Regions from separate parts of the Homo sapiens genome. Here region 1 is linked to region 2. Evidence: fine-mapped expression QTL. A gene starts in region 2. The other region holds a variant in brackets. All regions are shown on one strand. Distances are between the middles of the regions. Region 1 has its middle 15 kb from the start of QSOX1. Region 2 holds the start of CEP350 (centrosomal protein 350).

The links. PIP is the estimated chance that this variant, and not a neighbour inherited with it, causes the effect. A credible set is the group of variants that fine-mapping cannot tell apart.
Region 1: its variant is the best candidate, but not a certain one, in a credible set for the expression of CEP350 in whole blood (INTERVAL, PIP 0.56).

Annotation. Positions count from the first base shown.
Region 1 is chr1:180,131,335-180,147,907 of GRCh38, forward strand. No RefSeq gene overlaps it. Among named protein-coding and RNA genes, the nearest start is that of QSOX1, 15 kb to the right of the region's middle. The variant G/A (reference allele first, on the strand shown) is at 8,160.
Region 2 is chr1:179,947,653-179,964,225 of GRCh38, forward strand. It overlaps CEP350 (centrosomal protein 350), which reads left to right and starts at 7,158. Exons shown (of 38, transcript NM_014810.5): 1 at 7,158-7,490. It overlaps LOC101928933 (a long non-coding RNA gene), which reads right to left and starts at 4,826. Exons shown (of 4, transcript XR_241158.4): 1 at 4,614-4,826. RefSeq lists enhancers at 4,654-4,763, 6,854-7,355 and a silencer at 7,143-7,592.

The DNA.
Region 1 (16,573 bases), 180 kb after region 2:
AGCTGACAGCCAGCCCAGACACAGGACCTCAGTCCTTCAGCCGCAAGGACTGAATTCTTCTAATAAACTGAATGATTAAGGAAATGGATTTGCCCCTAGAACCTCTGGCAAAGAATCTAACTCTGCCAACACTCTGATTTTAGCCCAGTGAGCCCCATGTTGGATTTCTGAACTACAGAACTATAAAATAATAAATTTGCATAGTTGTAAGCCACAAAATCTGTGGTAATCTGTTATTGCAGCAAGCCAGTGAATGTATGTGGTTTAAACTAAAAGCTGAAGGAAGAACGTGTTTCAAGAAGGAGGGGGCCATCAGCTGTGTTGCAAGCTGCTGAGAGGTTGAGTCAGAGGAAGACAGACATAACCTTTGAATGGGGCAACGCAGAGACTGCCACTGACCTCGACCAGCAGTTTCAGTGGAATGGTGAGATCAGAACGCAGACGGGAGTGGGGCAGGCCATGAAGGTCAGGGTGATGATGCAGTGAAGACAGACAACTCTTGTCAAGTTTTGAAGAGGGGGGAGGAAATGGGGCAGTATCTGGAGAAGGGTGTATGTTCATACAAGAGTTCCACTTTGTTTTAGTGAGAGACAGAGAGCAGGTTGTTTGCTGAAGGAATTGACCTTGTGGGGGAGAAAAAGTGAGATTTGCGAGTGGGGTTGGGGGACCAGCAGCAAAGTGGGATCCAGAGTGCAAGTGGAGGGGCCGGTGTTGATGGGAGGAAGGGGCAGGAGGGAAGACAGAAGATGAGTCTGGGCGCGAGGTGGCTTCTAGCTTGATGGTGGGAGGAAAAGGAGTTCCAGTCTGATGGCTTCTATTTTGTCATCAAAGTGACCGAAGTGAGGTCTTGTGTGAATGTACAAGGGGGAAGAAAGCATGCTGGAGGCTTGAGGAGCGAGAAAAGGGTATAGAATGGCTCACCCTGGAGCCTGGGAAGCAACCTGATGATAGAAGCGGAGCCCGCTGCCCCAGGAAGGAACTGGCCTCTGCTGCCTCTTTCACCTTCCTGGCGCGGTCCTGGGGGTGGTCTGCTGGGTTCAGGTTGGGCTGTGGAGTATGTTCTTACTCACTAGGCAGGTAACCCAAGCAGCTTTTATAGCCTTGGTCTCTTCACCACCATCATCTTAGTCATGCTTGCCCTGCCTACTTCCATCAAAGGAGGCAGCAAGTGCTGCATGGACAGTCAGGCGCTGTCTGAGTGGGAGTCATGGTTTTTTCCTTATGGATGGAGTCCATCCTGTAATACCTGGCCAGTGAGGAGATCCCCAGCAAGCTAGAGATGAGCACAGAGGGAGAGCGTCTGTCTAGCTCGCAGCAATGGCCTCTGCCTTCTGAGATCGCTTCCTTCGTAAGCGTAAGCAGTAACTTCCACCTCCACCCGGTCCCCAAGAGGCCTGACAGACTCCCAGCCTGGGTTTACTTTCCTGGGGCAATAGTAATATGAATCCACATAGAGGCTTGGTCCCCATGGGGTGCTCCTCCAGCCATAGTGTCTGCAGCTGTCATCTGGCTAGATGAAGGAAGGGAAACCAGGGCCTGATGCTGTCCTGCCATTTGCTGAATGTCACCCTCCAGGGTAGCCCAAGAAGAAGCAGTAAGTCTTCCAATGTGAGTTTCCTGTAAAAGTTCTTTGGTGACGTAGGGCTTTTTGTGTAGGTGATTTGGGAAGGGGCAACTTTACAAAAATCAGATAAGCTGGGTGGGTGGCTCATGCCTCTAATCCCAGTACTTTGGACAGCCAAGGTGGGAGGATTACTTGAGCCCAGGAGTTCAAGACCAGCCTGGGCAACATAACAAGACCCCATCTCTACAAAAAAAAATTTTAAATTAGCCAGGGCTGGTAGCCTGTGGCTGTTGTCCCAGCTACTCAAGAGGCTGAGGTAGAAGGATCACTTGAGTCTAGGAGGTCAAGGCTGTAGTGAGCTGTAATTGTGCCACTATACTCCAGCCTGGGCAACAGAGCAAAACTCCATCTAGAAACAAAACAAAACAAAACAAAAATAGATCAATAAGCCTCATTGTGACCAAAGAGAGGTAGTGTTCTCCCAGTGAAAAGCAGGAGTCAGGGAGCTCAAGGACTTTGTCCAGGATCAAACACAGGTCAGCTGAGGACCTAGGAATCCAATTAGTTTGACTTGACTCCAAGCTCATGTTTTATTCTACCATACGAAACTGCTTCCCTGGATCCAACCAGCCTGCCTGCTTCCCAGCAAAGGGAAGAGGAGGGAAGGAGCCAGCATTTACCAAGCACTTGTTTACCAGGGGTCCTGCTCTTTGCAGTTCACAGTCGGGGGAAGGAGCACCCCTAGATGGCCAAGAGGCTGTTTCATGATTAACCCCTGCCAATCGGAGGTCTATGGGAAACAGGTATGCTCTGGCTGAAAGCCATGCTGAGTTCAACATGTCATCCTGGTCACCAAAGATAAAAGGATCAGGAAAATAACAGCACAAGTAGATACTACATTCTCCTCTCCAAATACCTTCTCTCCTCCTCCTCTCAGTCCCCAAATGCCATTTTTCCCCGAAATGGAAAGTAGGAGATAAAACTATCAGGGAGATGAGGTCGGCGCGGTGACTTACGCCTGTAATCCCAGCACTTTGGGAGCCCAAGGTGGGCGGATCACGAGGTCAGGAGTTTGAGACCAGCCTGGCCAACATGGTGAAAATCTGTCTCTACTAAAAATACAAAAAATAGCTGGGCGTGGTGGTGCACGCCTGTAATCCCAGCTACTCAAGAGGCTGAGGCAGAGAATTGCTTGAATCCAGGAGGCAGAGGTTGCAGTGAGCTGAGATTGTGCCACTGCACTCCAGCCTGGGCGACAGAGCAAGACTCTGTCTCAAAAAAAAAAAAAACTATTAGGGAGATGAAAGTGAAATGGAACTCCTTCTGATCTCACAGAAACATTCAAACAGTGGAGGAGAAAGGCATAGGAAAGAAACTGGATAAGGTATATAAAGAGAAACAAGCACATAGCCCCTCCAAGGGATTTTGCCAAACGCTTCACTTCTGCTCTTTATCCACTTGTGATATTTGTAGATGACATAAGCTGGTTATGTGGCAGCTCTATGGACTTACTGTTGCATTGTTCAAGGCCAAGTTTCCCAAAAGGAGCTGGGGAATAACATAATGTTGAGTCCAGAACGTTCCTTTGGCAGAGTTTTATGTTAGAATCTTAATACAGAAATGAGAAGAGAAGGAATACACTGATAATATTTATTTTATATTTACAGTGGGATCCTGGTAAAAGGTGTTGGCACCCTTTCAAAAAATTGTTGGTACCTTTGTACAGAGCTGTGGTCATATCAATTGGCACAATACTTTTGGAAATTACAATTGTTCCGTGAAAGGGCCATTTACGCAGAGTGATGCCCAAGTGTCAAAGAAGTCCAGAAACCAAAGCAGGAGGCTGTCAAATCCAGTTTGTTGATTTTAGGTCACTTACTAGGGCAACTTAAAGACAGAAGCATGCTCTTGGGCAGCCACGAGATACGTAGGTCTCTGTACTGCAACCCCCGAAACCCAGGGCCTCTATCTCGGGGAAAAAGTGTATGTGCTCTGAAAGTGTATGTGGAATATAATGTATCTGGAAGTATACGTGCTCTGGGAAGTGTAGGTGGCTACCAGCATCACAGCCTATTTCTGCAACAGCATCAAGGGTTGCTTTGGAGGAAAAGCAAAACTTGAAATGAAGAGGTATTCCCACAGAAAGAGTAATACATCAACTAGACATTTTGTTCCTGGACTTGAAGTTAGTCAGGTAGATTAGCATTTAAAATAAAGTCACTCTTGGCTGGGCACAGTGACTAATGCCTGTAAATCTCAGCACTTTGGGAGGCCGAGGTGGAAGGATCACTTGAGCCAAGGAGTTTGAGACCACCCTGGACAACATAGCAAGACTTCATCTCTATTAAAAAAAAAAAGTAGCTGGGTATGGTGGCACACATCTTCAGTCCCAGGTATTCAGGAGGCTGAGGCAGGAGGATCGTTTGAGCCAGGAGGTCGAGGTTGCAGTGAACTAAGATCATGCCACTGCACTCCAGCATGGTGGACAGAACAAAACCCTGTCTCAAAAGAAAAAAAGCCACTCTTGTCCACAACAATTTGTACCATGAACCACAAAATTTTTCATATATATTTTGACCTAATGAACTTTTTGAGGAAAAAGAGATAAACACCAAAGATATGCATAAACGTTTATGACTATAAAACATTAAAAATAACCATAATATTCAATGTTGTAGAAATAATGGAGTAAACTGTTACCCACTCATTTGGCAGAATATTTTACAACCACTGTAATTAGTGGTGTGCTGGACTCAGCCCATACTGGCTTGAGAGAGCCAATTGTGTGCATTCTTCCCAACTCTGCATTCCATGATGTCATGTCAGTAGCATGAAATCAGCCATGGTGGGAGTATTTACACGAGAGAAATTGGCAAACACTACCAATTAGGGCTTACCCCATCCCCAGAGAGCAAGTTGTTAAAACATTTTCCAGCACACCATTGGTAAGTGGTATATATAAAAAAGATACAAAATTATAAGTGTACCATTGTCATAACAATGTTAAAAATGAATATAAAGATAAGACATGGAAGGGACTATAGATGAGCTGAAAAAAGATTGTGGATAACTTATTTTTTTATTTCAAGCTCTGTTTATTGCTATAGTCTTATTTATATAAAAACACATTTTTTAAATGTTTAAATCTGGTCTTCTGTTTTCACTATGACCAAATAATTTCCTATGAATTCATCCTCTCACATATACAAAATATAATCTCTGGAAAACACACACACACACACACACACACACACACACACACACACACAAACTGCATACAGACACTGGAGAGTGAAAAAGGCAGGCAGATTCTGAAGCAGAGTCAACATTTGGAAGAGGGAAACAATATAAAATAAAGTGTCCCATTTTTATGACAGTTAATTTGAAGGCAGGCTGCAGTTGGTACTGTGTGTAGAGCAGCTAAAACTTTGGTGGGAAATTAGCAATATTTTCTGGCCTGAAGACCAGGAGACACAGTTTAGGGCACCTAAAGCCATTTAGAAAATGAGGAGGGAATCCCAGAAGTGAGAGTCAGAGAAGGGAATTCTCAAGTTCTGTGCATAAACTGCCCACATTGCTGGCTGCCCTGGATCACACATATGTGGTACACATTCAAACCAGCCCAGCTTGAGCTAGAAGACGTGAACTGATTTTGAGCTGCTGCCCAAGATACAGCATTTGTAGCTAACATCCAGCCAAGTTAACTCGCTTGTTCCTAAAACCAAACCAAACCAAAAAGCCAACTCTCTGGAAAAAACAACAGAATCCAAAGTCTCCACAGCATAACACTGACAATGTCTTAGAAAAAATCCAAGAATATCTGACATATAAAGAACCAGGAAAATGTAGTCTATTCTCAACGGAAAAGAATCACAAAATGACTCAGATCCTGGAATCAGGAAACACGACTTTAAAGCAGCTATATAAGCATGATTGATGAGGTAAGAAAAAACATACCTGCAATAAATGGAAAAGTAGGGAATCTCAGAAGAATCTACAAGAGTTTCTATAGACATCATAGAAGTAATTAAGTAAAATTCTAGGACTAAAAATTACAAGATCTAAAAGAAAAAATTATGGAATGGGCTTAACAGAATGATGATGAATCAAGAAAAAAATCCATAAACTTGAGGTTGGGTCAATAGAACTTACTCAATCTGAGAACAGAGAGAAAAACAAAATTGAAAAAATCTGAAAAGGGTTTCAGAGACCTGTGGAATCTGTGGAACCTGTGGAACCTGTGGAACCTGTGTCTAACATACTTACAGTTGAAGTCACAGAAGGAAAAGAATGAGAGAATGTAACAAAAAATATTAGAAGAAATAATGGCTGGACCTTTCCCAAATATGATGAAAGACATAAATTTATTGATTTAAGAAACTCAATAAACCTGAGGCAGAATAATTATGAACAGGACCATGTCTAAGCACATCATAGTCAAACTATTGAAAAGCAAAATGAATGAGATAGCGGTCAGAGAAAAACAACATATTACATACAAGGAACAAATATGTGAATGACTGCTAATTTCTCATCAATAGTCATAAAAACATCCTTAAAGTGCTGAAAGAAAAAATACATTCAATTCTATAGCTAATGAAAATATCCTTCAAGAATGCGGGCAAATAAAGACATTTTCAGATAAAACAAAATTGAGAAAACTCATTGCCATCAGAGCTCTACAGGAAATTATAAAGTTTTTCTTCATGCTAAAGGAAAATAATACCAGATCAACACTTGGATCTTCAAGGAAGAATAAAGGGTATTGAAAATGGTTACTATCTAAATAAATAGAAAAGACTATTTTTCCTCTTAATTTCTTTAAAAATATATGACTACAATTTGAATTTTAAAAACTAATATTTTTTGTGGGTGGTTTTATAAGTAGATATAATTAATAGATATGACAACTATAATATAAAGCACGGGTTGGCAAACATTTTCTGTAGAGGGCAAGATAGGAAATATTTGGATTGGGGCCATAGAATCTCTGTCACAAAGACTCAACTCTGCCACTTGTAGCCATATAAAAACCAAAAGTAATGGCCGTGGCAGTGTTCCAATAAAACTTTATGTACAAAATATGCAGCAGGCAGGAACTGTTCTTTATAACAGGAACCACTGTTATAAAGAACAGAGGCAGCAGGGTAGCAGATGGACTTACACAATTATGAAGTTTCTGCATTTTATGTGAAGTACAATATTAGCTCTAAATAGACTGTGAAGAGTTTATGTAAAGTATAATATTAACTCTAAGTGGACTGTGAGAAGTTAGTGTCTCTCAATAGCAGCACTATTCACATTTTGGCCAGATAATTCTTTGTGGTGGGGGGCTGTCCTGAGCAATGAAGGATGTTTATCAGCATCTCTGGCTTCTACCCCTACCCACTAAATGTCAGTAGTGCCACCCTACCTAGCTGTGTCAACTAAAAATGCCTTCAGACATTGCCAACTGTCCACTGGAGGGGTAAATGTCCACTGCCCCCCTTGTAAGAACCAATGACCTAACGTAACCACTAAAAATTGCAGAGGCATAACCAAAAAGCCAATAGATACATTAAAATGGAATTCTAGAAAAGATTCACATAGTCCAAAAGAAGGCAGGAAAGGGAAAAACAAACAACAGAGAGTAAAACAGAAGATAACAAAGCAAGACATAAGTCCAACCATATCAATATTGCATTGTTAGTTAATTGGATACTCCAATTAAAAGGCAGAGATTGTGAGAATGAATGAAAAAGCAAGACCCAACTACATGTTGTCTCAAAAGACATACTTTTAATATGAAGACATAAATAACTTGAAAGTAAATGAATAGAAAAAGCTACGCCATGTAAACTGTAAAAGATTGAGAAGACTGCAGTGGGGTATATATGTATATATACATATATATATAAAAGTGGGGTATATATGTATATATATACATATATATGTGTGTATATGTGTGTGTATATATATATAAGTGGGGTATATATGTATATATATACACATATATATGTGTGTGGGTATATATATATAAGTGGGGTATATATGTATATATATACATATATATGTGTGTGTATATATATATATATAAGTGGGGTATATATGTATATATACACATATATATGTGGGGTATATATATGTATACATATTTACATATCCTCCTTTATATATATCCTCCTCATATATATATATCCTCCTTAGCAGCAATACAATGGATATATTAATAACAGATAAATAACAGCAATAGATATATTAATAACAGATAAAATAATGGATATATTAATAACAGATAAAACAGAATTCAAGGTTAAGAAGTACTACCACAGATAAAAACAGGCAGTTTGTAATGATAGAAGGATCAATTCATCAGGAAGCCATAACGATTATAAACATGTGCGTTCTTCTTCATAACAGAGACTAAGATACATGAAGCAAAAGTCAACAGAAAGGCCAGGCATGGTGGCTCATGCCTGTAATCCCAGCACTTTGGGAGGCCGAGGCGGGCAGATCACGAGGTCAGGAGGTCAGGAGATCGAGACCATCCTGGCTAACATGGTGAAACTCTGTCTCTACTAAAAATACAAAAAATTAGGCAGGCATGGTGGCAGGC[G/A]CCTGTAGTCCCAGCTACTCGGGAGACTGAGGCAGGAGAATCGCTTGAACCCAGGAGGTGGAGGTTGCAGTGAGCTGAGATCGCGCCACTGCACTTCAGCCTGGGTGACAGAGCAAGACTCCGTCTCAAAAAAAAAAAAAAAAATCAACAAAAGAGAAAAAGACAGTCCCACAATTACAGTAAGAGATTTTTAATCTCTCTCTCTCTCTCAGCAATTGATAGAACAAGTCAGTAAAGACAAGATGGTTGGACAACACTGTCAATTGCCTTGACCTAACTGATAATTACAGAACACAACACTCAACAACTGTAGAATGCACATCACTCTAAAGTGAGTGTGGCATCTTTACCAAGAATGACCATATGCAGGACCACAAAAACAAAGCTCAAGAAATTGAGAAGAGTTAAAACTATACACATTTTAAAATACAACTTCAGGCCGGATGCAGTGGCTCATGCCCATGATCCCCATGCTTCCGGAGACCAAGGCGGGAGGATCACTTGAGGCCAGGAGTTCAAGACCAGCCTAGGTGATACAGCAAGACCCCATCTCTACAAAAACTAAATTAAAAAAATTATCCAGTTGTAGTGGCGCATTGCTGTAGTCCCAGCTACTTGGGAGGCTGAGGCAGGAGGATCGCTTAATTAAGCACATGAGGTTGAGGCTACACTGAGCTATGATTATGCCACTGCACTCTGCCTGGGTGACAGGGTGAGAATCTGATTCTAAAATAAACTAATTAACAAAATAAAATAACCCCCAATACAATTAAATTGGAAATTAATCACATTAAGATATTTAAGAAAATCCCAAACATTTGGAAATTAAATAATTTATTTCTCAATAATTCATGGCTCAAAGAAAACAACACACAGAAAATCAGAATAAACATTTTTCAAGCCAGTGTAGGGAGGAAATATATTTATTTGAACATGGAATTAGAAGTTTATAAGTACCAATGTAGAGGCTTCTTGTTACAATGACATTGCTAAGGAAAAGATATAGTAATGCAGGAGGAAGGGGATTCTAAAGAGGCTGGTGACAAAAAGCTCTCAGGAGAGAACATTTGAACTAAGACCTAATTAATGAGGTATACAGTTGTCCCTCTCTATCCATGGGGGATTTGTTCCAGGATCCCTGAAGATACCCAAATCCACAGATGCTCAAATGCCTGATATAAAATGGCATAGTATTTGCACATAACGTATGCACATCTTCCCATATACTTTAAATCATCTCTAGATTGCTTATAGTACCTATTACAATGCCTCCACATCACTTCATTCATGTGGAATTAGTGTAGTAATCACCACATGCAAATTCAAGTTTTACTTTTTGTAACTTTGTGGAATTTTTTCACCCTGAATATTTGCAGTCCATGGTTGGTTGAATCCTTGGGTACAGAACAGAAGGCCAATTGTAAAATCAAATAAACAAACGTGTTATCAGTTGAATCGTACTTCCCCAAAAGATGTTGTGGTCCTAGGCTGGGGCCCGGTGTTCCATGCCTGTAATCCCAGCACTTTGGGAGGCCAAGGTGGGTAGATTGCTTGAGCCCAGGAGTTTGAGACCAGCCTGGGCAACATGGTGAAATATCACCTCTACAAAAAATACAAAAATTAGCTGGGCATGGTGGTGCACACCTGTAGTCCCAGCTACCTGGGAGGCTGAGGCGGGAGGATTGCTTAAGCCCGGGAATTCAAGGCTGCAGTGAGCCATGATCTTACCACTGCACTCTAGCCTGGGCAGCAGAGCAAGACCCTGCCTTGCCTCAAAAATAAAAAACAAAACTGAAATACTAACCCCATCCCATACCTCAAAATGCGACCTTATTTGGAGATAGGATCTTTACAGAGGTAATCAAGTTAAGATGAGGTCATTAGGATGGTCCTAATCCCATATGACAGTGTCTTTACACAAAGGAGAACTTTGGAGACAGAGGGAAGGTGCTGGGAAGCACCAGGAGTTTGTGTTTGCAAGCTAGGGAATGGCTGAGGCTAAGAGAGAGCCCGAGCTACCAGGGAGGCCTGAACACACCCTCCCTCGCAGCCCTCAGAAGAAGCCAACCCTGAAGACACTTGGATTTGGGCCTTCTGGCTCCAGACCTATGAGCAAATACATTTTTGAAGCACTCATCTTGAACTTCTGGCCTTGTTGAAGTCACCCAGTTTGTGGTACTTTGTTAAGGGCAGCCCAAGGAAACTATTTGAGTAACAGAGTAAATAAGGGGAGTGGGCCACTTAGCATTCCCCTTCCCTGACTCGTTTCAAGGAGCCACAAGAAGAGCATGCAGGCAGAAAGAACAGCGGGGACGGGGGCCTGAGGCAGGAGCCAGCAGAGACATCCTGTAGGCATGGCGGCCACACCACCCAGGCCAGTGGGCTTTCCTAGGCCTTCAGAACATACCTGCAGATGAGGAGAGGGAATGATCTCACAAAATTCATATTAATAAACGTCTATCTAAATGGTCTAGATGTAATTAAGTCCTTACTACCTATTACATGTATTAATCATAAAAAAATTGCATTACATTTGAGCACAATTTGTTGGTTAGACTTTCTGGCTCTGTAGTAACTTCTCCATGTGCAAAGTAACTGCTGAGAAATCATAGCCAATTATAAAATAAAGGAGTTTCTCAAAGTTAATTTCCAAAGCAAAATTCTAAACATTGCTTCCAAAGAGTTTATTCAGCAAAAAATATTGAAAGATGATAGTGCATTTGAATATGACATGGGGGAGGGGCTACCAAGTTAACACTACTTAAGCCAATGGTAGTCTTAAGACCACCCCAGCGGTCACAGGTTGGTGGTGTGGCGTGAGAAGCGCAGGGCAGGGGGAGTGGGAGACCCTGTCTGAGAGGCAGGCAGTACCTGTAGGTCTACACAGAATGTGAATTTTCTAAGTGGATGGAAAGTCACTGGAAAGTTTTAAGCAGGGACTGAGGTGCTCTGGGAAAGACTCTAGAGGGGAGAGACCAGGAAGAATTCTGGGACCAACAGGCTAGGACAGCCTCTTTGCCTCTCTGTGTCCTAGAAACCTACTTCAGATCTGAGTTGGGCACAGAACTCTGGTGACAGTGCAGCAGAAGCATTAAGAATCCCCTCCTGGCTGAGCGTGGTGGCTCACACCTGTAATCTCAGCACTTTGGGAGGCTGACGCGGGCAGATCACTTGAGGTCAGGAGTTTGAGACCAGCCTGGCCAACGTGGTGAAACCTCATCTCCACTAAAAATACAAAAATTAGCTGGGCGTGGTGGCACACGCCTGTAATTCCAGCTACTTGGGAGGCTGAGGCAGGAGAATCACTTGAACCCAGGAGGTGGAGGTTGCAGTGAGCCAAGATCACACCACTGCACTCCAGCCTGGGCAACAGAGCAAAATTCTGTCTCAAAAAAGAATCCCCTCCCCTGCCTAACTGCTGCCTACTCCCCCAACTTCAGCTCTCAGCCTAGGGAAGCTTCTCTGACTCCTTCTCTATTACTGCACCCCCGGCACTCCACAGTTCTTCTTTGTTACCTTCTCACGCTTTACCATGATATACTTTTTTGTGCAACTCTTTGATCAGTGTCTCTTCCTCTAAACTGTAAACTACTAGAGAGCAAGGACCATGTCTTGCATTTACTACCAGGGGCGGATTTGGGTTTTCTGCAGTCTGAATATTTTACCATTGGGGAAGCAGGGGGATAGGGGTTGGTGGGGAGGGAGGCTCTCTTTAAGAAAATAAATACACAATTACAAATACAAAATTAAGTATAAATGAGTATTCATTTAGAGAATCAGGATCACAACAAATTCCTAGATCTTAAGAGGTTTAGGTCCCCTTTGAGGAGTTCACTTAGACAATTTAGCAGAAACACTGAAGTGTTTTCTGAAGGTAGCCAGGCTTCCTCTCTCTACCTAAAACATTCTACACCTCCGAGCACTCACATGGGCTTTGTGGGTGAGCTTCATCCTCATTAGCTGCTCAGTATGCCCATCTTTGTTCATCACTATATTGCCAGCACCTGGCATCATGCTGGTTATATAGATGCTCAATGATTCATGGCTATTATGATAATTTTTATTTTAAACCAACATTTCCTGAGCATCTACAAGGACGTGCAAAGACAAGCAAGGACAAGAGAGATCTGGTCTCATACAATTAGTGAATGGTAAGGGAGACAATCGCAGCTGTCATTACTTTTTTTTTTTTTTTTTTTTAGACAGGGTCTTGCTCTGTCACCCAGGCTGGAGTGCAGTGGTGTGATCACAGCTCACTGCAGCCTTGAATTCCTGGGCTCAAGTGATCTTCCCACCTCAGCCTCCTGAGTAGCTGGGACCACAGGCATGCCACCACCATGCTCGGCTTATATTTTGATTTTTTGGTAGAGATGGGTTCTTGCTATGTTGCTTGGGCTGGACTCGAACTCCTGAGCTTAAGTGATCCTCCTGCTTTGGCCTCCCAAAGTATTGGGATTACAGATGTGAGCCACTGACCTGGCTTGTGATTACTTTTAAGACAAGATTAATAATATAAACAAGTTGCCAGAAAGGACAGGCAGAAAGGTAACTTGTTTCAGGTAGTAAGACAAAGTTAGGAAGAGGAGCCCCTAATGTCAGCTAGAAAAATTTGAGCTCACCAAGTAGCTGACAGGGTATTTTATGTTTTTATAAAAGTACAGTAGTAGACAAGACATTCCAACTCCCCCTACTAGACCAGAAGTTGCAGTACCCAGCTGCAGGTGAGGCAGGGCCAACCACCAACTGCAGAGCTTGGCATATGAACGGCTATGTCTGCGCACAGCCAGCCCAGAAAGCCCATATGTCCAACAGAAGCATCCTCTAAAGGAGACTTGTTCCACAGACAACAGCACGGAGCAACTGGGTAAATAGAGAAGAAGGGGTGGAGCCTCAAGAATCCTTTAGAATGTCTGCTGAGAGCAAGGCTGTCTTAAAGTAAGAATGAGACATCTGGATGCTAATGTGGTCATCACCTGGGACCATAAAAACACTCAATATTTCATTTGGACAATTATTCAGCAAGCGTTACTTGAATGCCTACGTGGGCTAGGCAAATTCTTGCAAGACATTCTTTTTTCTCTGTATGCTTCTCTCCCCCTTTTTTGCACCCAAGTGGCTTAAGTCAAGTTTTCCTAAACACCTGGAAATCTCAGTACATTCATGACGCATCTTAACATGGGTATTGTGGCCTCCAGATGTACTCACACCTCAGCCTTTCCTATGAGTTTAGCCCTATTCTGTCTCAAGCCCTGTGCTGGACTCTTTCATTCTCCCATTTGATCCGTACAACCTTATCCCTCCCAGTGGTGGTCATTGTCCACTTTGGTCTGTACAGCCCCACGTGACCTCTTCCTCTGGTAACAGTACGCCTTCCTTACTCCAAACATGCAGTACCAGTGAAGGCTGCCAATTACAGTGCTTACTCTCCTACCTATAGGAATGAGCACATTGCCCCGGATGACCCATCTCCCTGACTATAGCGACTGATCTAGGCATGAACACATAACCCAAGCCTGGCCAATCAGTTCCCCCCAGTGTTTTTCTAACTAGGGTCAGCAGAGAAGCTCTGTCTTTTCTCTCTGACCTCAAAAATGAAAGCGTGTGACCAGAGTTCTAGCCTTCTGGAAGCAGCTGGGCTGAGAGAATGAAGCCAAAGTACAGAGACTAGAAGTGCAGAGAGGAAAGATGGTGTCACAGCTTTCCCCTACCCTCTATTTGGCTCTTTGAGGCAATCAGTTCCCCTTTCCTGCCACAGCTAGTTCAATTTAGCATCTTTTTGAGTGTAACTGAGAGTCCTGTCTAAGGAACTCCTTTATACAGACAAATCCCATAATCTCAGGGAGCCCCTTCAGCTGGCAAGAGGCTCAGCTTTTGTTCCCGAGTCTGAGATGCCCTTGAAGTTCTCTTGCTTCCTCCTTAGCTTCCCCCTCCACACTGGCTCCAGCACAGATCTCTGAACCAAATGCTCAGAGCTCAGAACCAAATATCCATGTTAGCACTGTTAAGACAGGGTAGATTATCAAAGAACTAACTAAAATTCTGAGTGGTAACAGCAAGGAAACAAACAACATGAGGTAACAAATGTACAAAACAGACAAGATGATAGAGAAGTCTTCAGCTAGATTGCTTCGGGGCCTGCGGGCCTATTCTACCTCATAAGCTATCTGAAAATTGCTTCATTCTCATCCTGAAGATGTGGGAAAAGATTTTAGCAATCCAGTCTGGATTCCTGGCTTCCTAACTATGAGTCTGACCCCACACGGAGGACATAGTTTTAAAAATTAACTAATTAAAAAATTAAAATGTAGCAAACTAAATTGATCTATAAATGTAATGCAATCTCAGTCAAAATCTCAATAGGCTTCCTATTTTTTAAAAGAAGCCAACAAGCTGATTCTAAAATTCATATGAAATGCTAAGAACTAGAATAACCAAAACAATTCAAAAAAGAGAAATAAAACTGGGGGATTGCTACCAATTAATATAAAGAATTACAGGCCAGGCACAGTGGCTCACGCCTGTGATCCCAGCACTTTGGGAGGCTGAGGCGGGTGGATCACCTGAGGTCAGGAGTTTGAGACCAGCCTGGCCAACATGGCAAAACCCTGTCTCAACTAAAAATACAAAAATTAGCCGGGTGTAGTGGCGCATGCCTGTAATCCTAGCTACTGAGGAGGCTGAGGCAGGAGAATTGCTTGAACCCGGGAGACGGAGGTTGCAGTGAGCTGACACTGTGCCACTGCACTCCAGCCTGGGCGACAAGAATGAAACTCCATCTCAAATAAATAAATAAATTAATAAATAAATAAATATCTCTCCAGCAATTCCACTCCTAGGAATATACCCAAGTGGACTGAAACATATGTTCATACAAAAACATATACACAAATGTTCATAGCAGCATTATTTATATAGCCAAAAGGTGAAAACAACTCAACTAATAAAACTCAATGGAATGTTATTGGGTCACTTAAAGGAGTGAAATGCTGACACATGCTCCAACAGGGATGACCCTCGAAAATATTATGCTAAGTAAAAGCATCCAAACACAAAAGGCTACATATTCTAAGATTCCATTTTAGACACAGAAATTAGGTTAGTGGTTTTCAGGGGTCAACAGGAAGTGGGGAGTAATTGCTAATGGGTTCCTTTTGGAGTTATAAAAATGTTCTGAAGTTAGATAATGATGATGGTGGCACAACTTTGTGACTATACTAAAAACCACTGAATTGTATACTTTAAAGGGGTAAATTTTATGGTATATAAAATTTTATCTCATTAAAAGACTTACTATGATGCTATAGTAATCAAGGCAGTGTGATACCAGCACAAGGATACCATATGTGTCATATACACATGTATTTTAGTGGAACAGAATTGGGTCTAGAAATAGATTCACACATATATGGTAAATTACTTTTTGAAAACTCTGCCAAGGCAGTTCCATAAGGAAAAGATAGTCCTTTCAATAAATGTTGCTAAGACAACTGGATATTTCTATGGAGATAAATGAACTTTGACCCTTACCCTTATATACAAAAATTAACTTGATATGAATCAAAGACCTAAATGTAAGAGTTAAAACTATAAAATTTATAAAAGAAAACATACAAGAAAAGGCTGGGCATGGTGGCTCATGCCAGTAATCCCAGCACTTTGGGAGGATGACATGAGAGGATTGCTTGAGCCTAGAAGTTCGAGACCAGTCTGGACAACATAGTGAGACCATGCTGCTATAAAAAAATAAAAAATTAGCTGGGCATTGTAGAGTGCCTGTGGTTCCAGCTACTCAGAGGCCGAGGTGGGAGGATCGCTTGAGCCTAGGAGGTCGAGGCTGCAGGGAGCTGTGATCGTGCCACTGCGCTCCAGCCTGGGTGGCAGAGCAAGACCCTGTCTCATAAAAAAAAAAGAAAGAAAAGAAAACATACAAAAACATCTTTGTGGCCTTGGAATAAGCAAAGATTTCTTAGGACACAAAAAGTGCAAACCACAATAGAAAAAAAAAAAGATAAATAGATTTCATAAAAACAAAAACCTTCTGCTTATCAAGAGATACCATTAAGAAAATGAATAGGCTGGGTGCAGTGGCTCACACCTGTAATCCCAGCACTTTGGGAAGCTGAGGCAGGTGGATCACCTGAGGTCAGGAGTTCGAGACCAGCCTGGCCAACATGGTGAAACCCCGTCTCTACTAAAAATACGAAAATTAGCCAGTCGTGGTGGCGTGTGCCTGTAATCCCAGCTACTTGGGAGGCTGAGGCAGGAGAGTCACTTGAACCCGGGAGATGGAGGTTGCAGTGAGTCGAGATTGCACCACTGCACTCCAGCCTGGGCGACAGAGCAAGATTCCGTCTCAAAAAAATAATAATAAAAAGAAAGAAAATTAATACACAAGCTATTGACTGAGAGAAAAT
Region 2 (16,573 bases):
TGCCTCCCCTTTGGGTGGCCACTCCCAGTGTCCTGTAGCCAAATATTCCTCTTTCTCTGGGGTCCACTCAAGCTGGTAGGCTGCCTCCTTAGGGGGATCCCTTCCATTTTATTTTATTTTATTTTTTTGAGACAGAGTCTGGCCCTGTCGCCCAGGCTAGAGTTCAGTGGTGTGATCTTGGCTCACTGCAACCTCCACCTTCTAGGTTTAAGCAATTCTCCTGCCTCAGCCTCCTGAGTAGCTGATTATAGGCACCCACAATCATGCCCAGCTAATTTTTGTATTTTTAGTAGAGACAGGGTTTTGCCATGTTGGCTAGGCTGGTCTTGAACTCCCGACCTTAGGTGATCCATCCACCTTGGACTTCAAAGTGCTGGGATTTTAATTTACTCCTCCTCCTTCTTCTTCTTTTCTTTAGGAAAATGCCTATTCTTTTTTTTTTTTTTTTTTTGAGACAGGGTCTCACTCTGTCACCCAGGCTGGAGTGTGGTGGCACGATCATGACTCACTGCAGCTTCGACCTCCTCGGCTCAAGTGATATCCCCACCTCAGCCTCTTGAGTAGCTGGGACTACAGTCCTGTGCCACCAAGCCCAGCTAATTTTTTGTAGAGACAAAGTTTCATCATGTTGCCCAGGCTGGTCTCGAACTCTGGGCTCAAGTGATCTGCCCACCTCGGCCTCCTAAAGTGTTGGGATTACAGGCATGAGCCACTGCACCTGGCCTAACTCCCATTTTAGAGCAGCAACACTTACCTTCCCTGCCACCATCCTCTACTCTGCTGTCAAGGTTGCTATGCCTTTTTCAGGCCTGAATCCAGCCACAGGCTACTCTGCCTTTCAGATTTTGGCCCACGCATCAAGCTCTCCATATTGTCTTCTCAATGCCCCTACTACGAGCTTGAGGTAAGGAAGAAGCCACCTCTGCACCCCACTGCCTATCCAAAGAAATCTTCCTGTCAAACCCTTTGAATCTACAATTTCTCCATCCTTTCATATCAGTGACCAGGTGGAAGGGTCTTGCATGAGGGGGTTCAAGAATCACATACTTTGTCTCATATATCTCCTCTTAAAATGTGCATCTTAAGGACCGGGCGCAGTGGTTCATGCCTGTAATCCCAGCACTTTGGGAGGTCAAGGCAGGCACATCACTTGAGATCAGGAGCTTGAGACCAGCCTGGCCAACATGGTGAAACCCTATCTCTAGTAATAATACAAAAATTTGCCAGGTGTGATGGTGTGCACCTGTAATTCCAGCTACTCGGGAGGCTGAGGCAGGAGAATCGCTTGAACCCGGGAGGCGGAGGTTGCAGTGAGTTGAGATCACGCCACTGCACTCCAGCCTGGGCAACAGAGCGAGACTCTGTATCAAAGAAAAAAAAAGTGCATCCTGACCAGCCTGGGCAACATGGCAAGACCTTGTCTCTGCAAAAATGCAAAAATACAAAAATTTGCCAGGCGTTGTGCATGTAGTCCCAGCTACTGGGGAGACTGAGGTAGGAGGATCACCTGAGCCCCAGAGGTTGAGACTGCAGTGAGCTGTGATCGTGCCGCTGCACTCCAGCCTGGGTGACAGAGTAAGACCTACTCTAAAAAATAAAAATAATTAAAATGTGCATCTTGTGCTCCTGTCTCACAACTTACTCTGGTTGCTGCTATCAGTTTGTTTTCGGACCTCACTCAAAAATTTCAATTTTTAACTTTCAATTGTAGTCAAATACGGTTAAATGCTGCCTTTGTAGATATGCCTATTTTTTTTTTTTTGCATTCTGGATTTGATATCACAGAGGTTTCTATAATCAATATTTCCTTTGCTGTATGCTCATGTACACATACTCACATATATACACACAAATATTTATATACATGAAGATAGATGGTTATGCCTATTTTCTTATCAAAGACATTTATTTTTGATAAATTTCAGTTTTTTCTTAATTCTGCCCAGCAGAATAACAAATCCCCTAGAAAAGTACAAGACTAAGCCAAAAGACCAACTCTAGAAAAAATAAAAGTAACCAGAAAACCTACCCCTAAACTTGGTATCTGCATAGTTTGTTAAAATGAAAGGGAGATTTGTTATGGTTGAATTTATTATTGAAAAGATGGTGGACAAGATTACAGATCAGACTTGGCATCTAGGCTTGACATTTCCTTAGGAATGCCTTTAGTTAATCCTGACACATATTTTTATTCAATTAACTACAAATAGTGAATGACATCATTACAGCACCAAAGCTGTATCTTTCCATTTCTTAGTTTGTTGTCTAGAGATTAATATCAAATTTTGCATTCCCAGGAAAGAAAACATCACTATTCACCTAGAATCTAAATTCAACAAATAAATTTAATTCAACAAATATTGAATACCTAATTATATGCAAGGCACTAATACAGTGTATTAAAAATAGTAAAAATAAGCAACATTTTTGAGCACCTATTATGTGCCAACTATATGTCCTTCACATGTGTTATTTCTTTTTCAACACAGCTTTATGGATATATACTTCACATATCATACAATTCACCTATTTAAAGCATACAATTGAATGGGTCTTAGTATGTTCACAGAGTTGTGCAACTGTTGCCACTATCAATTTTAGAACATTTTCATCGCATAAAAAAGAAACTCTGGGGCCGGGCACAGTGGCTCACGCCTGTAATCCCAGCACTTTGGGAGGCTGAGGCAGGCGGATCACCTGAGGTTGGGAGTTCGAGACCAGCGTGACCAACATGGAGAAACCCCATCTCTACTAAAAATACAAAATTAGCTGGGTGTGGTGGCGCATGCCTGTAATCCCAGCTACATGGGAGGCTGAGGCAGGAGAATAACTTGAACCCAGGAGGCAGAGGTTGCAGTGAGCCGAGATCGCACCATTGCACTCCAGCCTGGGCAACAAGAGCGAAACTCTGTAAGAAGAAAAGAAAAAGGCCAGGCACAGTGGCTCATGCCTGTAATCCCAGCACTTTGGGAGGCTGAGGTGGGCAGATTACCTGAGGTCAGGAATTCAAGACCAGCCTGGACAACATGGTGAAACCTCGTCTCTACAAAAATACAAAAATTCGTAGGGCATGATGGCGGATAGCATGTAATCCCAGCTACTCAGGAAGCTGAAGCGGAAGAATCGCTTGAACCTGGGGGGCAGAAGTTGCAGTGAGCTGAGATCATGCCATTGCACTCCAGCCTGGGCGACAGAGCGAGACTCCCTCTCAAAATAAAAGGAAACTCCATAACCACTAGTAGTCATTTCCCATTTCTCCTCCCCTCCCCTATGTCTATTCCACTTCTCTGCCCCAGGCAATCACTTATCTACCTTCTGTCTCTATATATTTGTATATTCTGAACACATTTTATATTCCTCTACATGTGTTATTTCTTTTCTTACACAACCCAGTGAGGTAGGTACCATTGCAATCTCCACTATACAGAAGTGGAAACTGAGTCACGAAGAGGTTAAGTACCCTGACCAAAGTTATATGGCTAGTAAGTAGCTCAGCCAGGCTTTATTTATTTATTTATTTGAGACAGAGTCTCACTCCATCACCCAGGCCAGAATGCAGTGGTGCAATCTTGGCTCGCTGTATCCTCTGCCTCCTGGGTTCAACTGATTCTCATGCCTCAGCCTGCCAAGTAGCTGGGACTACAGGCGTTCACCACCATGCCCGGCTAATTTTTCGTATTTTTGGTAGAGATGGGGTTTCATTATGTTGGCCAGTCTGGTGTCGAACTCCTGCCTTCAACTGATCCACCCACCCTGGCCTCCCAAAGTGCTGGGATTATAGGGGTGAGCCACCGCACCCGGCCTCAGCCAAGGTTTAAACCCAGAATTTAAATTCTAGGTGAATAGCTATGTTTTCTTTCCTGGGAATGCAAAATTTGATATTGATCTCTAGACAACGAATTAAGAAATAGATATAGCTTTGGCGATGTAATGATGTCATTCACTATGTGCAGAATTCATGCTTTTAATCCACTATGAAGGAGACAAAGGTCCTTAGAATCTAACATGATCATGATGTATAAGATACATGCAGAAATACTGATAGTAGATACCGCTCTATGCAGGAGACACAGCATCACACAGTTCAGGGGTGGAAGAGCACCTGGAAAGTATGAGCAATCAAGGATTTTTTTCTGTAGTAGTTAGCTTCTCAGTTGGCACTTAGAGAATGTGGCAGAAATTGCGAGCTGGGGTAATATGTGTTCCAGGTTAGGAAACAAAGGCCTAGAGGTAGGAATGAACAGGTTGTTTCTCCGATCCAGTGTGGCTTGAATGTAACATTCTCAGTCAGTGTATCACTTCCCATTTCGTGACATTAGCTACCGTTTATTTCTGTCTTTTAACGTCAAGCTCTTGACAGGTATTATTTCTAATCTTTAAGACAACCCTACAGGGTAGATATCATTAGCCTTGATATAGACAAGAAGATTGAGGTTCTTGAGGGGTCATAAGGCAAGTAAGTGATAGAGCCAAGATTTGAATAAGTGTCTTTCTGATGTCACATTCCTGCCCTTTCTACTTTATTGTGCTGTCTTACTTAAGGGAGATGGAAAGTTAGGTTGGTGCCATACTGAGAAAAGCCTTGATGGCTGAGGCGAAAAGTTTTTACTTACCTTGGCAGGTAGAGACATGATAGAGACAAAACTCAAGCTGAACTGTGGAAATACTACTATAATCATTTGGGCAGTAGAAATGACAGTCTAAATTAGGAAGGCAGTGGTGCAATCAGACAAAAGGGAAGTACATATAAGAAATATGCATCAGTGGTATTTAGAGACTTCATAACTGGGTGGGAGCAAGGCGTACAGAGGAGTATATAATATTTCTGAAACTTTGGTTCTCTTAGTTCTCAGAAGAGTGTTCTGTGACGGCCATGAACAGAAATACAGAGGAAACGAGGAGGAGCTGGCTTTGTGAGACTGAGGGAGGAAAAATGATAACCTTAATATGGGAGCTGAAGGTGCTGGTGACTTCTGTATCTATGTGAAGATGGGTAACGGGTAATTGGAGATTTAGTCTAGGGCCAAGATCCAGTTATCCAAAGAGTGGTGAGAGTCAAGGCCACAGTAATCAACAAAGAATATAAAGAAAAATGCAATCTTAGTGTCTACTAAAAAGTAGGAGAAACAAGGGAGCCATATTGAATACCTATTACCGGCCTAACACTGCGGAGACGTCTGGGAAGGGCCACAAACCTTTCCACAGTAAACCTCCAATCTTGTTCCAGAGATTAATTACTCTCATGAAACTATATGCAACTAGTACAAAACTTGATAGATTCAGGGCCAATCTGTAGGGTAAACACAAGAGTAACGGGATATTAGAAAAGAAAGACATTGATGTGCTTGGGGAATTTAGGAGGCGAGGAGAAGACAGACCAACACAAGGTATAAGAAGTAGAAATTGTGCATAGGCTGATACCAGGGTAACCCTGCTCTGAGCACAGTGACAGAACTTTGGTGTCTTCTCTGTTGTCAAGGGGATAGCATGGGGCTGAAAAAGTATAAACAGGCTTTGGGGCAAAGCAGATCCCAAAGCTTACAGCTCCCTTTTATTGATGGTATAAAATTGGGCAAATTACTTAGCTTTTTCAGTACTTGTTTCTTTTTCTTTCTTTCTTTCTTTTTTTTTATTTTTTTGAGATGGAGTCTCACTCTGTTGCCCAGGCTGGAGTGCAGTGGTGCGATCCCGGCTCACTGCAACCTCCGCCTCGCAGGTTCAAGCGATACTCCTGCCTCCGCCTCCCGAGTAGCTGGGATTACAGGCACCCGCCACCACGCCCGGCTAATTTTTGTATTTTTAGTAGAGACGGGGTTTCACCATCTTGGCCAGGCTGGTCTTGTACTCCTGACCTCGTGATCCACCCGCCTCGGCCCCGCAAAGTGCTGAGATTACAGGCGTGAGCCACTGTGACCGGCCAGTACGTGTTTCTTCGTTTTAAAAAAGTGAGTATATTTAATAAGGTGGTTGTTTACATTCAGTAAAATAGCGCATGAAAAGCATCTAACACAGGGCTTTAAACAGCAAGACTGGGCAAAACCTAAATAACATTTTCCTTATGTTGTCTTTTTTGCTACCACTTGCACCATACGATTACCCACATTTCCTGTCCCCTCCAGTGCAGCTTCCTGGAGACACTTCACACGTATGCAGGACTTCTGTACATCCTACTCAGGCACAGCTGTAGGCCCTACAAAGAGGGACCATTTACTGCCTCCTGCTGTCATTGATATTCGACAAACATTTATTGAGCACCTACAATGTCCTAGTTACTGTGCTAGGCCATTTTGGGGTATAGAGAGATAAAACAGATCTTAAAGTCTTCACGACACTTAAAGATGAGAAACAGTCTCTGGGTAAATAACTATCGGAGTTCAGAAGGTGGACAGAAGTGGTGGGCGGCGAGTCTGTGTGCAGTGAGCACCTAGCGGAAGATGGCATTATTTGCAGAAGAGAGGTCCTTTAAGCCAAGTCTTGATAGATGATTTCACCACGCGGAGATTGGGAAACGAGGACAAAGATATGAGAAGATATGTTGGCCACAGAGAGCCTCTCAAAGCACTGTTAAAGCAAAGCCAATACTTAATGGGAGGAAACTCCGTTTTACTTGCGTGGAGTCTTAAGTCATTAGATGCATGCTAAACAGAACTGTAACCCTCGCGAATAAAACGGCCACAGTGACAGCAGTGGGTAACGGCAGAGCTGCAACTACTCTGACAGGGGTGACGACTTATTTGGACGACAGTTGGTGAAACATTGTAAACTCTCAGAAGCTGCCGTTTCCAGACTTTGAGTTCATTCTTGTCGAATCCCCAGCTTGTTTTCTCAGCCCGGGGTGAAATGCGCAGCCAAAAGGCCCAATGAGCGTCAAAGCGAAAGGGCAGGGGTGGTCTCTTCTGCGGATATACCTTGGCTCCTCCCAAGTCCTACGAGTTTAAACTTCGACGCACCAAACATGGCTTCTTCGCGGTTCTGCTCCTTGTTTTATTTCGCTCCCACCTTTCGGCCACACTCAACATGGCCCTAACCGAAGGTTGGCATGCCTGTGGCACTGTCTCGGGACAGTTCTCGCGAGGTTTGCCTGGGCCCGACTGCTCCCGCCCTGCCTCGCGCCGCCGCCACAGCCGCTGCCGCTGGCGCCGCTCCTCCTCCGTGTCAGTTGTTGGGCTGTAATGGCGACTGGGCCGCCCCTGACGAAGTGACTCCCGGGCCGGGGAGCGGGGCCAGACCTGCGCCAGAGAGAACTGCAGGGAGCCGCAGCTCGGGGGGTGGCTTGCCCTGAGGGAGGGGAGGCAGCCTTTCCGCCTTGTCTTCCTTCCCAGCGGACCGGCGGATCCCCGGAGCCGGTGCGAGGAGGGCACCCGGTGCGTCCCCGGAGCGGGGAGGCCAGGCCGGGCAGCCCTGGGGCCGGTCGGGGCGGCGTCACTGCACCCTCCGCCAGGCTCCGCGGGATGCACCGTGGTAGCCGAGGGCGGAGGCGACACTCTCAGGTGAGCTCCTGTAGGACCTGGCTGGGACCGCGGAGTCTCGCTCAGCCTCAACTGTCTCTGTCCGCGGTCCCGGGTCCCCGGTGGCGGCAAGAGAGGCGGGGCCGGGCGCGGAGAGTCTTGGCCCTGCTTGGCGTCCCCCTCGGGGAACCTCCCTGGGTTCTGAGGCTTTTCGGGGACCTAGGTTTCGGGTCCCACCAGTGCCTGCTGAAGACGGAATTTCCTTCCTTACGTGCCAGTGTCCTCCCGCCTCCTCCACCCCTCCTCTAGCCTGCAGAGGTAAGATACCTCTAGCCTTTGCTGCCCGGAGAAGTGTCCCTTCTTCATCTGGCGATCAGGCGTATTTGGGGAGATTCCGGGGACTGGCTCCAGTGGCAGGGATGATCAGTTTCTGTTCCTTTTCAGTGGGGATCACATTCTCAAGTATAGGGAAAACTTTGATCTACTCTAGTCTAGCGGCTGCTGAAGGTAGTTTATTCACAGATAATTTGGGGAAAGATTTAAAAGGCTTTATGTTTTGGAAGTTGTCAGTATTTTCCTCTGCCTTTTAAATGCAGCTCAACATGCTAAGTAATATTTAGCTAATGTCACAAGATATGAATTGGAATTTGCCTGGATTTTAAATATTCAGATAGAAAGTTGCACATAGGCATAGATTTTAATGTTTTAATGCAGTAGCAAATCCTTCATATGGGAAAAAACAGGTTGTCAGAAATAGTGATCAATATCCATGTACTCCACCTGATTGTTTTGTTTTGATGGTGATCCTTGTTTTGAATTTGGGGAAGTCGTTATTGTTGCCATGTTAACGATACCTCCTGCCCTGTATTTGAAGAGTTTTAAAAGAAAGACTATCTTTGGCAGAGCTAGTAACAATCTGAAAAGTTCTGTAGAAACAATGATAAAATACTAAAAGTTGCCCTCCATTCTGAAAATTTCTTCGTTTAATATATTGTTTTTAAACAAGGAAATGCACTGCTAATGACATGGAATTGTGACTTTGAGGGATTGTTAGACCCATGCTGGAAGTTGCTTCAAAGCCATGGGCGTATAATAATTAGTTTCGGTGTGCTAAATTGACAAATTTTATTTAATGTAATGAAATAAATCTGAATCATTTGAACTGTCAGTGCATTAAATTTAAGATACTGTAATCTGAAAATAAACTTCAAGCTAGAATACATTGTATATGTGGATAAATACATGTGTATCTCTGTATCTCTTCATCCTCAGTAGCAAAATTTTGTGTATGTAGAGATGGCAAGTTGTATATGTAAAAAATTTCATACGTATGTGAACATATTTCTTTGATTTTCTGAGATAAATTGGTGTGTGTGTCATGTAAGAGCGTTAATACTTAAACAGCCAACCTTCTGTGGGGCAATCAATTTATGAATTATAAAGTTTTTGGATTTTTTCCTTCTGCTTCTGATTGTCAGTCTTTTGCCCATTTTATAACACTTCTACCATATATGAGCAGAAGAAAGGAGATGAAGTACTGCTATAATCAATTTTATTTGTTAAATTGCTATAATTTATAGTGGGAGCAAAAAAGAAGTCTAAAATAACTGACATCAGTTTTTGGTGTGCTTCTATATACATTATTTTATTTAGTTTTCACAGTGATCTTGTGAAGTAGGTATGGCAGATATCCTTATTTTGCAGTCGTGGAAACTGACACACAAGGAAGATCATTTATGTGAATGCCTCTCATTTCTGCAGATAATGTGGAATTATTTTTATTTTAAACTAAATATTAATATAGGTGCTCTGGCATTTGGTGTTATTTTAAAATATTAAAAAATTATTCTATTTTTGTTCCTTTTTACATGCCACTTGCCCCTTATGCTGATGATCGTCAGTTCTTTAAAAACATTAGTATTTTTATAACGTTTTGTTAATTATTGACAAGTCATGAATTATGATGGATCACTTACTTCTTTATGTATATACTTTTTGCTTGAACAAGATTATTAAAGTGTAGTTCATTTATTATCTTTCACTTTGGATACTCAGTTCTGTCATCTTTATTCTTTCAGTCATTTATACTCTTAGTTATGTAAAACAAACATTCAAGCCACATGATCAGTAACATAACTGAAAAGTAGTAATATCTTGATGATTTTATTGTTGAGACAACTGATGATTTAAAAAGTTAATTCTCTGCATATAATTGTGATTGTTATTTTTGCAACATGAGGCAAATTTTAGTGTTATAGTGTAAAAAAATCATCAGATTGCATAGTATTTTTTTCTGTATTGATTTGTTGTTGTTGTTGTTCATTGTTATCATAAGTGTGATTTTACATTTACTTGTGGTTATTTTGAGTTATTCTTTGCCTTTCTCATCTGGTCTGTAAGTTCCATGATGGCAGAGATCCTTTAATCACTATTATGCACCCAGTGCCTAGCATATGGTAACATAGTCAATAAATACTAATTGAAGAAATTGACTAAAGAATAGTCCCAGAATAATATTTTAAATGCAAAACAAAACAAAAGACTAGTTCTTAGTTCCTAAGCACACCTCAACTCTTGGGAATATATTCCAGAGATATGCTCAGATTTGCTGGGTAGCAAGGGAATGACAGCCTGGGATTAAAAAGCCACTGGGAATAAGCCACAGTGGAAACTTCATTTACTATTTTAATGATTTGCCTAGGTGCTCTGGCAACAGGTTACGGTAATTTAAAGAAAATATAAACTTTAAGACCCTAACCTGTTATACTAGTACTATAATTATAGCCTTGTAATAACTTTAAGTCACTTCTTAATCTCAGTATTGGGAGTTTAAATTCTTCAAGGCCAGCTAGTCCAATTCCCATATTTTATACATAAGAAAACAGAAGGTTGTATAGGGGCGATATCTCATGCATAGTTGATTTCATAACTGGGAGAAGAATCCATTGCACAGCTGCTAAGTCTACATTTGTTTAATATGTCAGATAATTATAAAATCAGAACATAATTGTGATCAACTTGGCAGTCTATTCAGTATTAATTAAAAACTCAAAATGGGCCTTTTTTTTCATGAATCCAAAGTGTTAACTTAAAAATGAATCTGAACCCTTTCCTCTGTAGTTGGGACTATAAATTGATACCATTGGAGCAACCTTCTGGAAGGAAATTTGGCATTCCCTATCAAGATTAAAAGTATATATATTGTTTGATAGAATCATTTCCTGCTTAAAATTTATGTTACATAAATTTTAACAGCATAGGAATTGTATAAGAATGTTTATATTAGCATTATTTCAAGATGTCAATAACATTTATAAATAATTTAAAAATGTCCTAAATGTCTGTTGGTAGGCTAATAGTTAAAAGTCTAGTATTTTTATGCTGTGAATTACTGTGCAGTTGTTAACAGGTTTCAGGGTATCTATATTTACTTCATGAGCAGCAGCTGAGCATATCCTTCAGCTCCTGGAACCATGCGGTGGACCTTCTGGATTCAAAACCTAACTGCACTACTTTCTAGCTGTGACTCTTGGCGAATTACTTAAAGTCAACTATAAATTGGATATACTAGTAGTTCTCATGTTACAGGGGTACCATGAGAATTAAATGAGTTAACAGTTAGGCCCTAAATAAGCATTAATAAGCGCCACATAAGTGTTTGCTGTTACAATTATGTATTGACTTGGAAGAATGTTCATGATATAAAATTAAGTGAAAAAATAAGTTGCACTATACTATAGAATATGATTTATTTAAAAAACACATAGACAAATGTAGTTTTGTTTTCATTTTGCATGTGAATAGAAAAAGGTCTATAAGGATAGACATTAAACATGTTATTCCTGAGGGAGTGGATGACTTTTCTTTTTTACTTTAGACATTTTTGTATGGTTTTATTGTAAGAATCACTTTTATAATTTTTGAAACTTTTTTCTAAAAAAAGGAAGTAAATTTTTTCTTCTATTAAATAGTGATATAAATGTATTTTTGAATGTGATTTTTAGAGATCTACACATTTCATCAACAGAGTGTCTCATAATTAGATCCTGTGTCAAAACATTTGTTGATGGAAGGGCTGGGACTTGGTGGCTCACGCCTGTAATCCCAGCTCTTAGAGAGGCCGAGGCAAGTGGGTCACTTGAGGTCAGGAGTTCGAGACCGGCCTGGCCAACAAGGCGAAACCCATCTCTACTAAAAATACGAAAACTAGCAAGGCGTGGTGGCAGGCCTGTAATCCCAGCTACTGGGGAGGCCAAGGCAGGAGAATTGCTTGAACCAGGGAGGTGGAGGTTGCAGTGAGCCAAGACTGCCACTGCACTCCAGCCTGGGCAACAGAGCAAGACTCCATCTCAAAACAAACAAAACTTTTGTTGGCTGGGTGCGGTGTCTCATGCCTATAATCCCAGCACTTTGGGAGGCTGAGGCGGGCAGATCACCTGAGATTAGGAGCTTCAGACCAGCCTGGCCAACATAAGGAAACCCCATCTCTACTAAAAGTAAAAAACTAGCTGGGCATGGTGGCAGGCTCCTATAATCCCAGCTGCTGGGGAAGCTGAGGCAGGAGAATTGCTTGAACCTGAGTGGCAGAGGTTGCAGTGAGCCAAGATTGCACCACTGCACTCCAGCCTAGGTGACAGAGGAAGACTCTGGCTCAAAACAGACAAACAAACAAAAAAACTTTTGTTGGCAGAAGGTTGAAATTTAGGAAAATCTATAATAAATATATTTGTTTTTCTCCTAGCTTTGTAGCCTTAAGTCTTATTTCTTACTTTACAAAGTAAACCCGTAGGCTAGATCAGTGTTTCTTAAATCCAGTATTCCTAAACTGTGCACTGAAGTAAATCCTCACTTAATGTTGTCCATAAGTACTTGGAAACTGCAACTTCTAAGACCCCAAACACCTCTAATATTAAACATTGAAATAAATGGGTCCTATGCATACATTTAAGAAATACTAAAAACAAGATAATTACCCACTTATTTCAGTTCAGGATGGCAGGTGGCTGGAGCCTGTCCCGGCAAGTAGGGCACAAGATAGGCTGCCATTCCATTGCAGGTAGCATTTACAGACACACACACACCCACCCACCCACCCACATTCACTCAGACTGGGACCATATAGACATGCCAATTCATGTCAGTTCACCTAATGCGTGCACCTCTCTGATGTGGGAGGAAACTGGAGCATACGGAGAAAAGCCACACAGACATGGGGAGAACATGCAGGCTCCACATAGATGGTAGCCCTGGTGGGGAAATCAAAATTTTTTTCTCATCAAAATTGTGAAGAAATGATATTGAATGAAACTATGTTATGGAGGACCTGCCGTACTGTGGAGCACCATAGTAACTCACCTGGACACTATGCATTATTTGAGAAATTTTAATGGAAACAGCAATATTGGATAGCTGTGGGATATTTGACATCTATAGGACACTACTCAAACTACCAGTTTGAGATACCACACAAGAGATTGTGTTCCATTTTTTTTGATGACACTGTGTCTTCCAAACGCTAGGTTTTGGGAGTTTGCTGTGATAAAAAGCAAGTACTATGCAAAAATCAATTTGGAACAGTAAATGAAGGTGGTGGTGTCCAAAATGATTTCAAGATTTGAGAACTTGTGTAATATCTAGTAGGTACACACATCCTATTAAGTAGTTGTGGTAATTTAGTAATAAAAATATTTATTTCAATTTATACATATTTATTTTTCGATCTGCTACTAAGTTGGTAGGCTATAAATACTTTTTAGGTTGTGGACTGAACTACTTAGTAAATGGAACTGTTAGGTATTTTTTTGGCCTAGGGGTTCCATGAAAAAAATAACTGGCATACTGAGGGGTCTGTGAACTGAGAAAGTTTAGGAACCTCTTGAACTTTTGACCAGGACACCTATATATATTTTCCATGTTCTGTGCTCCCAAAGGTTGATTTTTTACATTTATCTTTATTTTTTATTTTTTTAAATAAAAAGAATAGATGTGTGTTATACGTGTATGTGTATACATATAATGAATCAAAAGTTTCACTTTTCAAAGTTTTACTTTAAACAGCCTCATGGCCAGGCGCGGTGGCTCATGCCTATAATGCCAGCACTTTGGAAGGCCGAGGTAGGCAGATCATTTGAGGTCAGGAGTTCAAGACCAACCTGGCCAACGTGGTGAAACACCATCTCTACTAAAAATACAAAAAAATTAGCTCGGCGTGGTGGCGCGCACCTGTAATCCCAGTTACTCAGTAGGCTAAGGCAGGAGAATCACTTGAACCTGGGAGGTGTAGGTTGCAGTGAGCCGAGATCGCGTCACTGCACTCCAGCCAGGGCGACAGAGAGACTGTGTCTCAAAAATAAAATAAAATAAAATAAAGCGCTCACTACCTTCAATACACTTGATATTTGCAAATCAATCCTATTTAGTTCCATTAAAAAAATGCTAGCTCCAATCCACGATATTGTTTTGTTTTGTTTTAATCTACTAACGGGTCATGACTACACACTTGATAATATGATGCTGGTTGACTCCTAACGTCCAGCTTTAATACGGTTTGTTTCTCTGGTTAGTTATAAATGAAGTTAGACTACGCTTTAGCTTTTATTTTAGATTTGGGTTGTGGGGGATACACGTGCAGGTTCGTTACATGGGTATATTGCATCATGCTGAGGTTTGGGCTTCTGTTGAACCTATCACTGAAATAGCGAACATAGTACCCAGTAGGTTGTTTTTCAACCTTTACCCCTTACCTGTCACTTCCCACCTTTTTTTTTGAGATGGAGTCTCTGTCACCCAGGCTGGAGTGCAGTGGCTTGATCTAGGCTCATTGCAACTTCTGCCTCCCAGGTTTAAGCGATTCTCCTGCCTCAGCCTCCCGAGTAGCTTGGACTACAGGTACGAGCCACCATGCCCGGCTAATTTTTTGTATTTTTAGGAGAGATGGGGTTTCACCATGTTGGCCAGGCTGGTCTCAAACTTGTGAGCTCAAGTGGTCTGCCCACCTTGGCCTCCCAAGGTACTGGTATTACAGGCGTGAGCCACCACGCCCGGCCCTTTCCCACTTTTGGAATCCACAGTATCTTATTTTCATCTTTATGTCTATATTTACCTATTGTTTAGACCCCACTTACAAGTGAGAGAAGGTGTGATATTTGATTTTCTGTTTCTGCATTAATTTGCTTAGGATAATGACCTCCAGCTGCATCCATGTTGCTCCAAAGGACATGATTTCATTCATTTTTATGGCTACGTAGTATTCCACGGTGTATATGTACCACATTTTCTTTATCTAATCTACTGTTTTTTGTTTGTTTGTTTGTTTTGTTTTGTTTTTGAGGCAGAGTCTCGCTCTGTTGCTCACGCTGGAGCGCAGTGACGTGATCTTGGCTCACTGCAACTTCCGCCTCCCGGGTCCAAGCAATTCTCCTGCCTCAGCCTCCTGAGTAGCTGGGATTACAGGCACATGCCACCATGCCTGGCTGATTTTTGTATTTTTAGTAGAGATGGAGTTTCACTATGTTGGTCAGGCTGGTCTCAAACTCCTGACCTCATGATCTGCCCACCTCGGCCTCCCAAAGTGCTGGGATTACAGGCATGAGCCACTGCTCCCGGCCTATCTGATCTACTGTTGATAGGTACTTAGTTTGATTCAATGACTTTGCTGTTGTGAATAGTGCTGTGATAAACATACTAGTGCAGTGTCTTTTTGATAGAATGATTTCTTTTCCTTTGGATAGATACCCAGTAGTGGGAATGCTGGGTCTAATGATAGTTCTAAGTTCTTTGAGAAATCCCTCTACTCTTTTCCACAGGGGTTGAACTAATTTACATTCCCACCAGCAGTGTATGATACTCCCTTTTCTCTGCATCCTTGTCATCTGTTATTTTTTAACTCTTTAATAATAGCAATTCTGACTGGTGTGAGATGGTATCAGTGTGGTTTTAATTTGTATTTTATTGATGATTAGTGATTCTGAGCATTTTTTTCATATGTTTGTTGGCCACTTGTATGTCTTCTTTTGAGAAGTATCCGTTTATGTCCATTGCTCACTTTTTAATGGAGTTATTTTTTTTTTCTTGTTCATTTGTTTGAGATTCCTTGTAGATTCTGGATCCTAGTCCTTTGTCAGATGTACAGTTTGCAAATATTTTTTTCCCATTCTTTAGGTTACCTCTTTACTTTGTTGATTCTTTTGCTATGTAGAAGCTTTTTAGTTTAATTAAATCTTGTTTATGAATTTTTGTTTTGTTGCATTTGCCTTTGAGGTTTTAGTCATAAATTCTTTGCCTAGGCCCATGTGCAGAAGAGTTTTTCCTAGGTTTTTTAAAATAGGATCTTTATAGTTTGAGGTTTTATGTTTAAGTCTTTAATACGTCTTGAGTTAATTTTTGTATGTGGTGAAAGGTAGGGGGTCCAGTTTCATTCTTCTGCACATGCTAGCCAGTTTTTTTGTGTGTTTTTTGGGTTTTTTTTTCTTTTTAGCACTGTTTATTGAATAGGTGTCCTTTCCCCATTTTTGCTTTTGTCAGCTTTGTTCAAGATCAACTGGTTATAGGTGTATGGCTTTATTTCTGGGTTCTCTATTCTGTTACATTGATACAGATGTCTGTTTTTGTATTGGTAACATGCTGTTTTGGTTAGGATATCCTTGTAGTATAGTTTGAAGTTGGGTAATGTGATGCCTCCTGCTGTGTTCTTTTTGCTTGGCTATTCAGGCTCTTTTTTGGTTCCATATGAATTTTAGAATTGTTTTTTCTAATTTGTGAAAAATGATGTTGCTAATTTGATGGGAATAGAATTTTTGGATTGTTTTGGGCAGTATGGTCATTTAAATTTTGATTCTTCCAATCCATGAGCATGGAATGTTTTTCCATTTGTTTGTGTCATCTGTTATTTCCTTCATCAGTGTTTTGTAGTTCTCCTTGTAGAAATCTTTCACCTCCCTGGTTAAATTTATTCCTGGGTATTTTATTTTTCATGTGGCTATTATAGATGGGATTGCATTTTTGATTTGGTTCTCAGCTTGAACATTATTGGCATATAGAAATGCCACTGACTGTTGTAAGTTGATTTTGCATCCTGAAACTTTACTGAAGTCTTTTTCTTAGGTCTAGGAGTTTTTTGAAGGACT